Linked DNA regions of Homo sapiens: region 1 is linked to region 2. The links come from fine-mapping of genetic effects on gene expression. Tissue or cell type: whole blood. Region 2 holds a variant in brackets; the other region holds the start of a gene. Each region is shown on its reference strand, or each on the opposite one.

The links. PIP is the estimated chance that this variant, and not a neighbour inherited with it, causes the effect.
Region 1: ERF starts here. The variant in region 2 is fine-mapped to the expression of ERF in whole blood (TOPMed, PIP 0.98).

Annotation. Positions count from the first base shown.
Region 1 is chr19:42,252,571-42,257,938 of GRCh38, forward strand. ERF (ETS2 repressor factor) reads right to left here and starts at 2,558. Exons shown (of 4, transcript NM_006494.4): 1 at 2,408-2,558. The coding sequence starts at 2,429. RefSeq lists silencers at 1,020-1,179, 1,230-1,279, 1,300-1,419, 1,510-1,579, 1,660-2,349 and 1 more and enhancers at 2,115-2,614, 3,255-3,786, 4,582-5,368.
Region 2 is chr16:3,885,502-3,890,869 of GRCh38, forward strand. No RefSeq gene overlaps it. Among named protein-coding and RNA genes, the nearest start is that of CREBBP, 7.5 kb to the left of the region's middle. The variant G/A (reference allele first, on the strand shown) is at 3,205.

The DNA.
Region 1 (5,368 bases), not on the chromosome of region 2:
AGGCCCCCTTGTTAAACCCCTTCCCTGAGCAACCCCTCCTCCAGGGCCTGGACCCTGGCTCCCACTTCTGGCAGGGACCCTTCCCCACTCCCAAGCCCACCACAACGGCGGCTTTCCTCATCGGACACAGCATACATGAAGGCCTGTTCCCGGCTTTGGGGGGGGGAGAATGAAGAGGGGGTGACGTCAGGGTGTCTCAATGGGGCTCTGTTCCCCAGGCCTTGGAGCCAGGAGCCAGGCACGGGCAAGGGGAGCATGTGTGAGTGTGCTGTGTATGCGTCCACGTGCTTAAAACAGGGAAACACCAGACCTGCACGGAGGAAGCTTGGGGGTGCGGGACCTCGGGAACATGGGGGCCAGTGAGGCAGGGAGAGAGCAGGCACATGGAGAGAGGGGTTCAGGAGACTGCGAGACAGAGTGCAGAAGTGGCAGCAGTCAGACAGCAAGGGCTGGGATGGCGAGGTCCCAGAAGCACACCTGGGTCCCACAGAGGCGGGGTAGGGATTCTCCCAGACAGACTATGCAAGCCTGGGGGGACAAAACTCCTGGGCACCCCCCAACCTCACGTGACGGCCCAAACTTTTTTTAAGGGACTATGAGGGTCGGAAGGGAGGAGTGGTGGCAGAGGAAGAACACGCCGGCCTCCTGGGGGGCCCCACCACCTCCCCCACTCCAGGCGGCCCTCTATGGCGCCAGAGCCGGGAAGAAAACAGGAAGTGGGAAACAGCCACGGCAGAGAGAGGGACCGGGATGGAGAACTGGATGGAGGGGTGCGGAGCGGCAGGCCAGGAGGCAGACGGGAAAGATGCACCGATCGGAGGCCATTCCAGGCCTCCTTCCCCTCCCCTCCCCCAGCCGGAAAACCCACACACTGTCCCGCCCCCCGACAGGGTTGGGGAAGCGACCCGCGGATCCTATCAGGCCAAGGCCGGTAGCAGGGAGAGAAGATGAAGCGAGGTTGTCTGGGTGCCTCGGCCTCCTCCTTGGGCGAGGGTAGGCTCCTGCTGCCCCCAGGGCCCAGCCACCCGGGAGCGAGTGGAAGCCGGGGGAGTGTGTAGGACGCACGTGACTGACCCTACCGCACTCCGCACCCCGGCCCCACCCCCAGGGCCCCTCCTCGGTCCGGGTCCCAATCCCCTGGCGCCGGATCCCAGCTCGGAGCCCTTTAAGATTAAGCCGCCCCCACCCGCCGAGCAGGGGGATGGGGATGGGAATGGGGTGGGAATGGGGTGGGGATGGGGTGGGGTGGGTGGGCCGGTCGGGGCACACACCCGCACACAGGAGCCCGAGCCGCCGCCGCCGCCGCCGCCGCCGCCGGGGGAAGGAAACAAGTTTGAACAGCGGCGCCCGGCCCCCTTCCCCCTCCCCCGTCCCCGCCCCGGGCCGGATTCCGACGGGGTAGACGGGCAGGGGGCGGCTGGGACCCCTCCCCCTGCGCGCTCGGGCGCAAAGTCCAGCCCGCGCGAGCCCGGGGGCGGCGGGGGAGGGGAGGGGGAAAAGTCCGAGTGGGAGGGGGAGTTAATCCCGCTGCCCCCCGCCCGCCGACCGAGGGGGAGGGGAACCTTGGCCCCTTAAGGAGGAGCAAGTTGGCGGGGAAGAGAGGGGCGGAGGGAAGAGACGGCCCGCTGAAAGAGAAGAGGTGGATCCGGGAGGGGGGGCGAGGGGGGAGCCTCTGCGTCTCCCCCCACCTTCCCCACCCTCCTCAACCCCGGGCCACCGGTGGCGCGGGAGGAGGGTACCCAGGTCTCCCCGGAGCCACCTTAAAGCCGCGCGTTCTAAGGTCGGAAACAAAAAGTTCCTTTTTCGAACGTTCGGGCTGCGCTTTGGAACTTTGCGACTCGGCGAGGGCGGGGGAGCGAGGAGCCGACAGAGGCGGGCGGGGGAGGGGCGGCGCAGCCAGGACCCCGAGTCCCGGGCTCCCCACTCACGCCCTCCTCCTAGAGGCCATCCCGTATCCCCCGCTAACCTGGTGCAGGGCACGCGCCGCCGTGAAGGTCACCAGCAGGACCGCGCAGCGCAGAACCAGGGATAGCGGGCCCGGTGGACGAGCCCCCCCGCCCCGCACACGTCCCGGCCCCCAGAGTGCAACGTGACAAGAGCGGAGGGGAAGGACCCCGCCACCCCCGTGATCCCGGGAGTGGGGGAGAGCCCGGCCTGCGGGGTCCCGGTAGGGATACAGGACCAAGACCCGCAGCACCCACACCACTCCGCCCGGAGCCAGGAATCGGGGGTCCCAGGCAGCAACCCCGCTCGCGCCACGAGAAGCAACAGGTCTCCAGTGCTTGAGGGGTCCCCCAGAACTGGGGATCACTCGGGCTCCCCCGGACCCCTTCAGCCCCCCCAAAGTTTCTCCGTTCGGTTTCCCGGGGCAACAAGTCTCCCCCACACGTGCTGCCCCCGCCCCCACCTGTGTCCGCCGGGGTCTTCATGCTGGGGGGCCCGGGGCGAAGCGCCCCGATTCCGGGCCGCGGCTCCCGGCGCCCTCGCTGCCCCGTCCCGTCCCGCGCCCGTCGGGCCGCCCTCGCCGCCTCACCCGGCCTCGCCTCTCAGAGCCTCTCCCCTCCCCGCCGCCGCCTCCCGGGTTAATATCGCACTCCGGGGCCGGGACGCCCACGCCCCCCGGCCGGCGACGTCACCGCCGCGTCGCCATGGAGACACTGCGCCCGCCCCCTCCCCGCGCACTCACACACACGCTCGTCGGCGCGCAGCCACTGAGGACCGGCCGGCTCTGGGCTTAAAGGGGCCGCGCGGCGGGGGAGGGAGGAAGGAGGGGGTGGGGGTGGGATGGGGTCCCGCGGGTCATGACCCTAGTCAGAGGCTCCGAGTCTGCAGCTAACTTAAGTCTTCGGCACTCGCTACCTGCTGCCCCTCCTCCTCTCCTGCCCACTGCGGGCTCCAGAGTTTCTTTTGGGAGCCTGTATGGGAAAACGGGGGGCCCTTCCGAGGAAGCGGGGGTCAGAAACTTTTGTGGGGAGGGGGCAGAATCTTCTCTGCAGAGGGGCGGGGTCAGGACCTTAGAAGATGATGAAGACCACAGCATTTCCCAGCTTGGTTTTACCCAACCCCCCAACCCTGAGCCTGAATGGGGGCAGCTGTCCAGGGGTGGGGTGGAATGGGTGGGATGCATTTCCCAGCATCGGAAATGGGGAGGCGGCTGTGCCCTCCGCTCCTGTGGGGATGGGGTCTTGGCTTCCCTGATAACCCCCGTCCAGCTGGGGAGGAAGTGACCAGAGAGAATGCATTTGGAAGCCCCCACCACCACCGTCCCCAGGCTGCAGCTGTCCCGGGGATAGGGCTGGCGCCGGAGGTCCCCCCACGTCCACTACTAGGACCGGGGGTTCCGGAGGCGGGGCCGGGATACGAGGGGGCGACCAAAGTCTGAACAAATGTGCTCCCAAGGGGCACTGAGGGTCGCCAGGAGAGAGGAAGACAGGGCTTAAGATCGAAAGCCAGAGCGTAGAGAAGTGTTAAGTCTCCGTTCTCTGCCTCAGCCGGGAGGGAAGGATGAAGCCTGAGGCTCTGGGAAACAGGAAATCACAGCGCAGATCTGATGGAGCCCAGGAGCCGGCAGCAGGGTAGAGGCCAAATAGAAGCAATATTCACAGGCATAGCCTGGAAACAGAGTCTCAAAAAAGACTCTGAGGTTCCGAAGGAGGGGCGTATGGGTGGCGGGCGGGAGTTGGGGGGGCTGGGTGGGGGACGAATCCAGAAGATGGGCGGGGAGACAGAAAAGTCACAGATAGGGAAGGCCTGCGGAGCTCAGGCTCCCGGTACCCAGGGCTTCAATCCCAGCCTCCTCGCTTGCGGGGTACCTAGTCCACCTTAGACAGGCTCCTCACCAGTGCCTAAAAAAAAAAGTCTCAGGCCTCCTCCTTGGGGAGACCAAGGGCTCCAGGGAAGCTTTCCCCCACAACCCCCGGGAATTATGTAACCTTGCCTACGGACAGTACAGCTCCCCCACGGATATTGTAACCCTCTGGGAGCGGTGTGGTCCAGCAATAATAATCATCTTCATTGTTCGAATAACAGCTCCCGAATTCCGAGTGTTCATGATGTGCCAGGCACCGGGCCAAGCATTGTCAGGGGCATCTTCTCATTTAATCCTCACAAAATCCCAACGAGGGGAATTACTGCTGTTATCCCCATTTACAGATAAAGAAAGTGATGCTCTCTGAGGGAAAATCAGTCCACTAAATCTTACAGCCAGGAAGTATTGGAACTAAGATTCGAACCCAGATCTAACCAATTCCAAACCACCACATTTACCCTTTACCATTATGCTTTATTACCTCTTTTACTACCCCCTCCAAAAAAAAAAAAATGCAGATTTTCAAAGATACTACATCAGGGCCCGGCGCAGTGGCGCACGCCTGTAAACCTAGCACTTTGGGAGCCGAGGCGGGAGATCACTTCAGGTCAGAAGTTCCAGACCAGCCTGGCCAACATGGTGAAACCCCATCTCTACTAAAAGTACAGAAATTTGCCAGGCGTGGTGGCGCACCTGTAATCCCGGCTACTCAGGAGGCTGAGGCAGGAGAATCGCTTGAACCCAGGAGGATCGCTTGAATCCAGGAGGCGGAGGCTGTAGTGAGCCGAGATCGCTCCGCTGCACTCCACCCTGGGTAACAGCAAAACTCCGTCTAAAAATAAATAAATAAAAAGGCTGGGCGCGGTAGCTCACGCCTGTAATCCCAGCACTTTGGGAGGCCGAGGCAGGTGGATCACCTGAGGTCTGTAGTTCGAGACCAGCCTGACCAACATGGAGAAACCCCGTCCCTACTAAAAATACAAAAAATTAGCCGGGCTTGGTGGTGCATGTCTGTAATCCCAGCTGCTCGGGAGGCTAAGGTAGAATCGCTTGAACCCGGGAGGGGGTTGGTTGCGGTGAGCTGAGATCGCGCCATTGCACTCCAGCCTGGGCAACAAGAGCGAAACTCAGTTTCAAAACAAACAAACAAACAAAAAGATAACACATCAGTAACAAACCCAGTGACCCCTACCCTCCCACCAGCAAGACAGAGATGAGTTACACCCAACCTTTTTTTTTTTTTTTTGAGACGGAGTCTCACTCTGTCGTCCAGGGTGGAGTGCAGTGGCCCCATCTCGGCTCACTGCAAGCTCCGCCTCCCGGGTTCACGCCATTCTCCTGCCTCAGCCTACTGAGTAGCTGGGACTACAGGCGCCCCCCACCACGCCCGGCTAATCTTTTGTATTTTTAGTAGAGACAGGGTTTCACCGTGTTAGCCAGGATGGTCTCAATCTTCTGACCTCGTGATCCGCCAGCCTCAGCCTCCCAAAGTGCTGGGATTACATGTGTGAGCCACCACACCTGGCTGTTACACCCAACCTTTGCTACTTCTTGTCTCTG
Region 2 (5,368 bases):
TCGTCATTTAGCGTTAGGTATATCTCCTAATGCTATCCCTCCCCCCTCCTCCCACCCCACAACAGTCCCCAGAGTGTGATGTTCCCCTTCCTGTGTCCTTGTGTTCTCATTGTTCAATTCCCACCTATGAGTGAGAATATGCGGCGTTTGGTTTTTTGTTCTTGCGATAGTTTACTGAGAATGATGATTTCCAATTTCATCCATGTCCCTACAAAGGACATGAACTCATCATTTTTTATGGCTGCATAGTATTCCATGGTGTATATGTGCCACATTTTCTTAATCCAGTGTATCATTGTTGGACATTTGGGTTGGTTCCAAGTCTTTGCTGTTGTGAATAAAGCCGCAGTAAACATATGTGTGCATGTGTCTTTATAGCAGCATGATTTATAGTCCTTTGGGTGTATACCCAGTAATGGGATGGCTGGGTCAAATGGTATTTCTAGTTCTAGATCCCTGAGGAATGGCCACACTGACTTCCACAATGGTTGAACTAGTTTACAGTCCCACCAACAGTGTAAAAGCATTCCTATTTCTCCACATCCTCTCCAGCGCCTGTTGTTTCCTGACTTTTTAATGATCGCCATTCTAACTGGTGTGAGATGGTATCTCATTGTGGTTTTGATTTGCATTTCTCTGATGGCCGGTGATGGTGCGCATTTTTCATGTGTTTTTTGGCTGCATAAATGTCTTCTTTTGAGAAGTGTCTGTTCATGTCCTTCGCCCACTTTTTGATGGGGTTGTTTGTTTTTTTCTTGTAAATTTATTTGAGTTCATTGTAGATTCTGGATATTAGCCCTTTGTCAGATGAGTAGGTTGCAAAAATTTTCTCCCATTTTGTAGGTTGCCTGTTCACTGTGATGGTAGTTTCTTTAGAAAACCCCATTGTCTCAGCCCAAAATCTCCTTAAGCTAATAAGCAACTTCAGCAAAGTCTCAGGATACAAAATCAATGTACAAAAATCACAAGCATTCTTATACACCAATAACAGACAAACAGAGAGCCAAATCATGAGTGAACTCCCATTCACAATTGCTTCAAAGAGAATAAAATACCTAGGAATCCAACTTACAAGGGATGTGAAGGACCTCTTCAAGGAGAACTACAAACAACTGCTCAGTGAAATAAAAGATGATACAAACAAATGGAAGAACATTCCATGCTCATGGGTAGGAAGAATCAATATCGTGAAAATGGCCATACTGCCCAAGGTAATTTATAGATTCAATGCCATCCCCATCAAGCTACCAATGACTTTCTTCACAGAATTGGAAAAAACTACTTTAAAGTTCATATGGAACCAAAAAAGAGCCCACATCGCCAAGTCAATCCTAAGCCAAAAGAACAAAGCTGGAGGCATCACGCTACCTGACTTCAAACTATACTACAAGGCTACAGTAACCAAAACAGCATGGTACTGGTACCAAAACAGAGATATAGATCAATGGAACAGAACAGAGCCCTCAGAAATAACGCCGCATATCTACAACTATCTGATCTTTGACAAACCTGAGAAAAACAAGCAATGGGGAAAGGATTCCCTATTTAATAAATGGTGCTGGGAAAACTGGCTAGCCATATGTAGAAAGCTGAAACTGGATCCGTTCCTTACACCTTATACAAAAATTAATTCAAGATGGATTAAAGACTTAAACGTTAGACCTAAAACCATAAAAATCCTAGAAGAAAACCTAGGCATTACCATTCAGGACATAGGCATGGGCAAGGACTTCATGTCTAAAACACCAAAAGCAATGGCAACAAAAGCCAAAATTGACAATTGGGATCTAATTAAACTAAAGAGCTTCTGCTGTTGCTTTTTACCATCACTGCCCCTGAATCTTTTCTCCCTTACTTACCCCAGTACCTCCTTTTCCTTAAACACATTGGCAGTCAGCTTCAGCTTCAGCCCTGATTCCACCCTGTCTCTTCCATTCCTAGCTAAGGAAACTTGAACAGGGTGTCTACAAAGGCTGGGCTCATTTCCTCTTCTCCCATGCCCTGTGTTTATTTTTATTTTATGTTATTTTATCATTATTATTTTGAGACGGAGTCTCACTCTGTCCCCCTGGCTGGAGTGCAGTGGCACGATCTCAGTTCGCCACAACCTCTGCCTCCTGAGTTCAAGTGATTCTCCTGCCTCAGCCTCCCAAATAGCTGGGACTACAGGCACCCGCCACTATGCCCAGCTAATTTTTGTATTTTTAGTAGAGTTGGGGGTTTCACCATGTTGGCCAGGCTGGTCTCGAGCTCCTGAACTCAGGTGATCTGCCCGCCTCGGCCTCCCAAAGTGCTGGGATTACAGGCGTGAACCATCGTGCCCAGCCTATTTTTATTTTTGAGACATGGTCTTGCTCTGTCACCCAGGCTGGAGTGCAGTGGTACAGTCATGGCTCAATGCAGCCTTGACCTCTCCTGCTCAAGTGATCCTCCTGCCTCAGCCTCCCAAGTAACTGAGACTACAGGTGTGCACCACCATGCCCAGCTAATTTTTTTTGGAGTCTTGCTGTATTGGCCAGGCTGATCTTGAGTTCCTGGCTTCAAGTGATCCTCCTACCTCAACTTCCCAAAGTGTTGGGTTTACAGGTATGAGCCACCGTGCCCATAGAGAATTTCCTTCCTTATGAACGATGAATATTCCATCGTATGGATGGACCACAGTTTGCTTATCCATTCATCTGTTGACGGATACGGAACTGCTTCCACCATGCAGCTATCATGATTAATGCTGTGGTGAACGTGGATGTATTTCTTTTCTTCCCAACCCTGCTTTCAATTCTTTTTTTTGTTTGTGTTTAGATGGAGTCTTGCTCTGTCACCAGGATGGAGTACAGTGACGCGATCTCAGCTCACTGCAACCTCTGCTTCTGGGGTTCAAGCGATTCCCCTGCCTCAGCCTCCCGAGTAGCTGGGACTACAGGTGCCCGCCATCATGCCCGGCTAATTTTTGTATTTTAGTAGAGATGGGGTTTTGCCATGTTACACAGGCTGGTCTCAAACTCCTGGGCTCAAGTGATCCTCCCACCTCAGCCTCCCAAAGTGCTGGGATTACAGGCGTGAGCCACCGCACCCGGCCTGCTTTCAGTTCTTTTGGGTATATACCCAGAAGTGGGATAATTGCTGTCTCATATGGTAATTCTACTTTTGATTCTATAAGGAACTCCCATACTGTTTTCCATAGCAGCTGCATCATTTTACATTCCT[G/A]CCAGCAGTGTACAAGGGTTCCAATTTCTCCACTTCCTCACCAACACTTATGCTGTTTTGTTCTTTTCTTTTCTGATAATAGTCATCCCGATGAGTGCTATCTTTCAGTTCATTCCTTTTAGCCGCTGTCTTGTATTCTACTGCAGGAACAAAGCACATTTTATTGATCTATTCTCCTCCTAAGGGACTGGTAGATTGTTTCCACTTTTTTCCTGTTACAAACGGGGCTGCAATTAATGTTCTTGTACAGGTTTCCTTGTGCACCTAAGAGCATCACCAGATGAACACTGAGAAGTGGATTTCCTGGGTTTAAGGTTATAGCAGGCAGAGCCCCCGTAGAATCAGCCAGCTTATGGAAGGTTTCATAGAGGAACTGCGTACACAGTTAGGGCGGGTTGCAAGGAAACCATAAGGGATAGGGCAGCAACCTAGGGCTTGTAGCAGCTGAGCTGTTACTGCCACAAGGCCCAAAGGGACACAGAAGGGAAAGCTTCCCAGACCCGGAAAGAAAATAATTGTGTAGAGATGGTCATCTTGAGAGGGGTGATCTTTTGCAGAGGGACTCAGCTGACTTGAGGTGACCAAATACCGTGACCACTCTTTCTTTTTTTCTCCCTTCCCTTTCCCTTTCCCTTCCTTTTCCCTTCCCTTCCCCTTCCTTCCTTCTCTCCTTTCTTCTTCTCTTTCCTTCCCCTCCCCTCCCTTCCCCCTCCCCCTCCCCTCCCTCCCTCCCTCCCTCCCTCCCTCCCTCCCTTCCTTCCTTCCTTCCTTCCTTCCTTCCTTCCTTCCTTCCTTCCTTTCGATGGAGTCTCGTTCTGTTGTCCAGGCTGGAGTGCAGTGGCGTGATCTTGGCTCACTGTAACCCCCACCTTTTGGGTTCAAGCGATTCTTCTGTCTCAGCCTCCTGAGTAACTGACATTACAAGCACATGCCGCCATGCCTGGCTAATTTTTGTATTTTTAGTCGAGACAGGGTTTCACCATGTTGGCCAGACTGGTCTCAAACTCCCGGCCTCAGGTGATCTGCCCAACCTCGCCTCCCAAAGTGCAGGGATTACAGGTGTGAGCCACCGCACCTGGCCAGTTTCCTTTTTTAAAATTTTTTTAAAAATTTTTTTGTAGAGATAGGTCATGCTTTGTTGCCCAGGCTGATCTTGAACTCCTGGGCTCAAGCAATCCCCTTGCCTCTGCCTCCCAAGATGTTGGGATTACAGGCGTGAGTCCCATGCCTGGCTTTCCTTCTTCCTTCTTTCCTGTCTGTCTTCCTCTCTCTCTCTCTCTCTTTCTCTTTCTCTCTCTCTTTCTTTCTAACAGGGTCTCAGGGTGGAGTGCAGTGGCACGATCACAGCTCCCTGCAGCCTTGACCACCCAGGCTCAAGCAGTTCTCCCACCTCAGCCCACCGAGTAGCTGGGACTACAGGCATGTGCCACCACACCGGCTATTTTTTTTTTTTTTTTTACTTTCTGTAGCGACAGGGTCTCATGTTGCCCAGGCTGGTCTCAAACTCCGGGGCTCGAGCAATCCTCCCACTGCAGCTGCCCAAAGTGCAGAGATGATAGGTGTGAGCCAATGCGCCCAGCCTTTCCTTCCTTCTGATCTCCCGCCAGGGTGCCCACTAGGAACCCAAGCCCAAGGCATGGTAGCCTGTCCAAGTCAGCCTCCTGAGGCCAGGGCAACGTGGAAAGGGGTGAAGGGATCGATTCGAGGGCTATCCAGAAGATGTCTGGCACATAGAGTATAGCCATCCTCAACTGTAGGGGGAATTTCCAATTTGCATTTATTTAATTATTTATTTAGTTAGTGAGTGAGTTAGTTAGTTTTTGAGACAGAGTCTTGCTTTGTCGCCCAGGCTGGAGTGCAGTGGCGCGATCTTGGCTAACTGCAAGCTCTGCCTCCTGGGTTCACGCCATTCTCTTGCCTCAGCCTCCTGAGTAGCTGGGAGTACAGGCGCCCGCCACCACGCCCGGCTAATTTTTTGCATTTTTAGTGGAGACAGGGTTTCACCGTGTTAGCCAGGATGGTCTCGATCTCCTGACCTCGTGATCTGCCCACCTCGGCCTCCCAAAGTGCTGGGACTACAGGCATGAGCCACTGCACCCGGCCTATTTATTTTTTTTGAGACATAGTCTCATTTTGTCACCCAGGCTAGAGCACAATGGTGCCA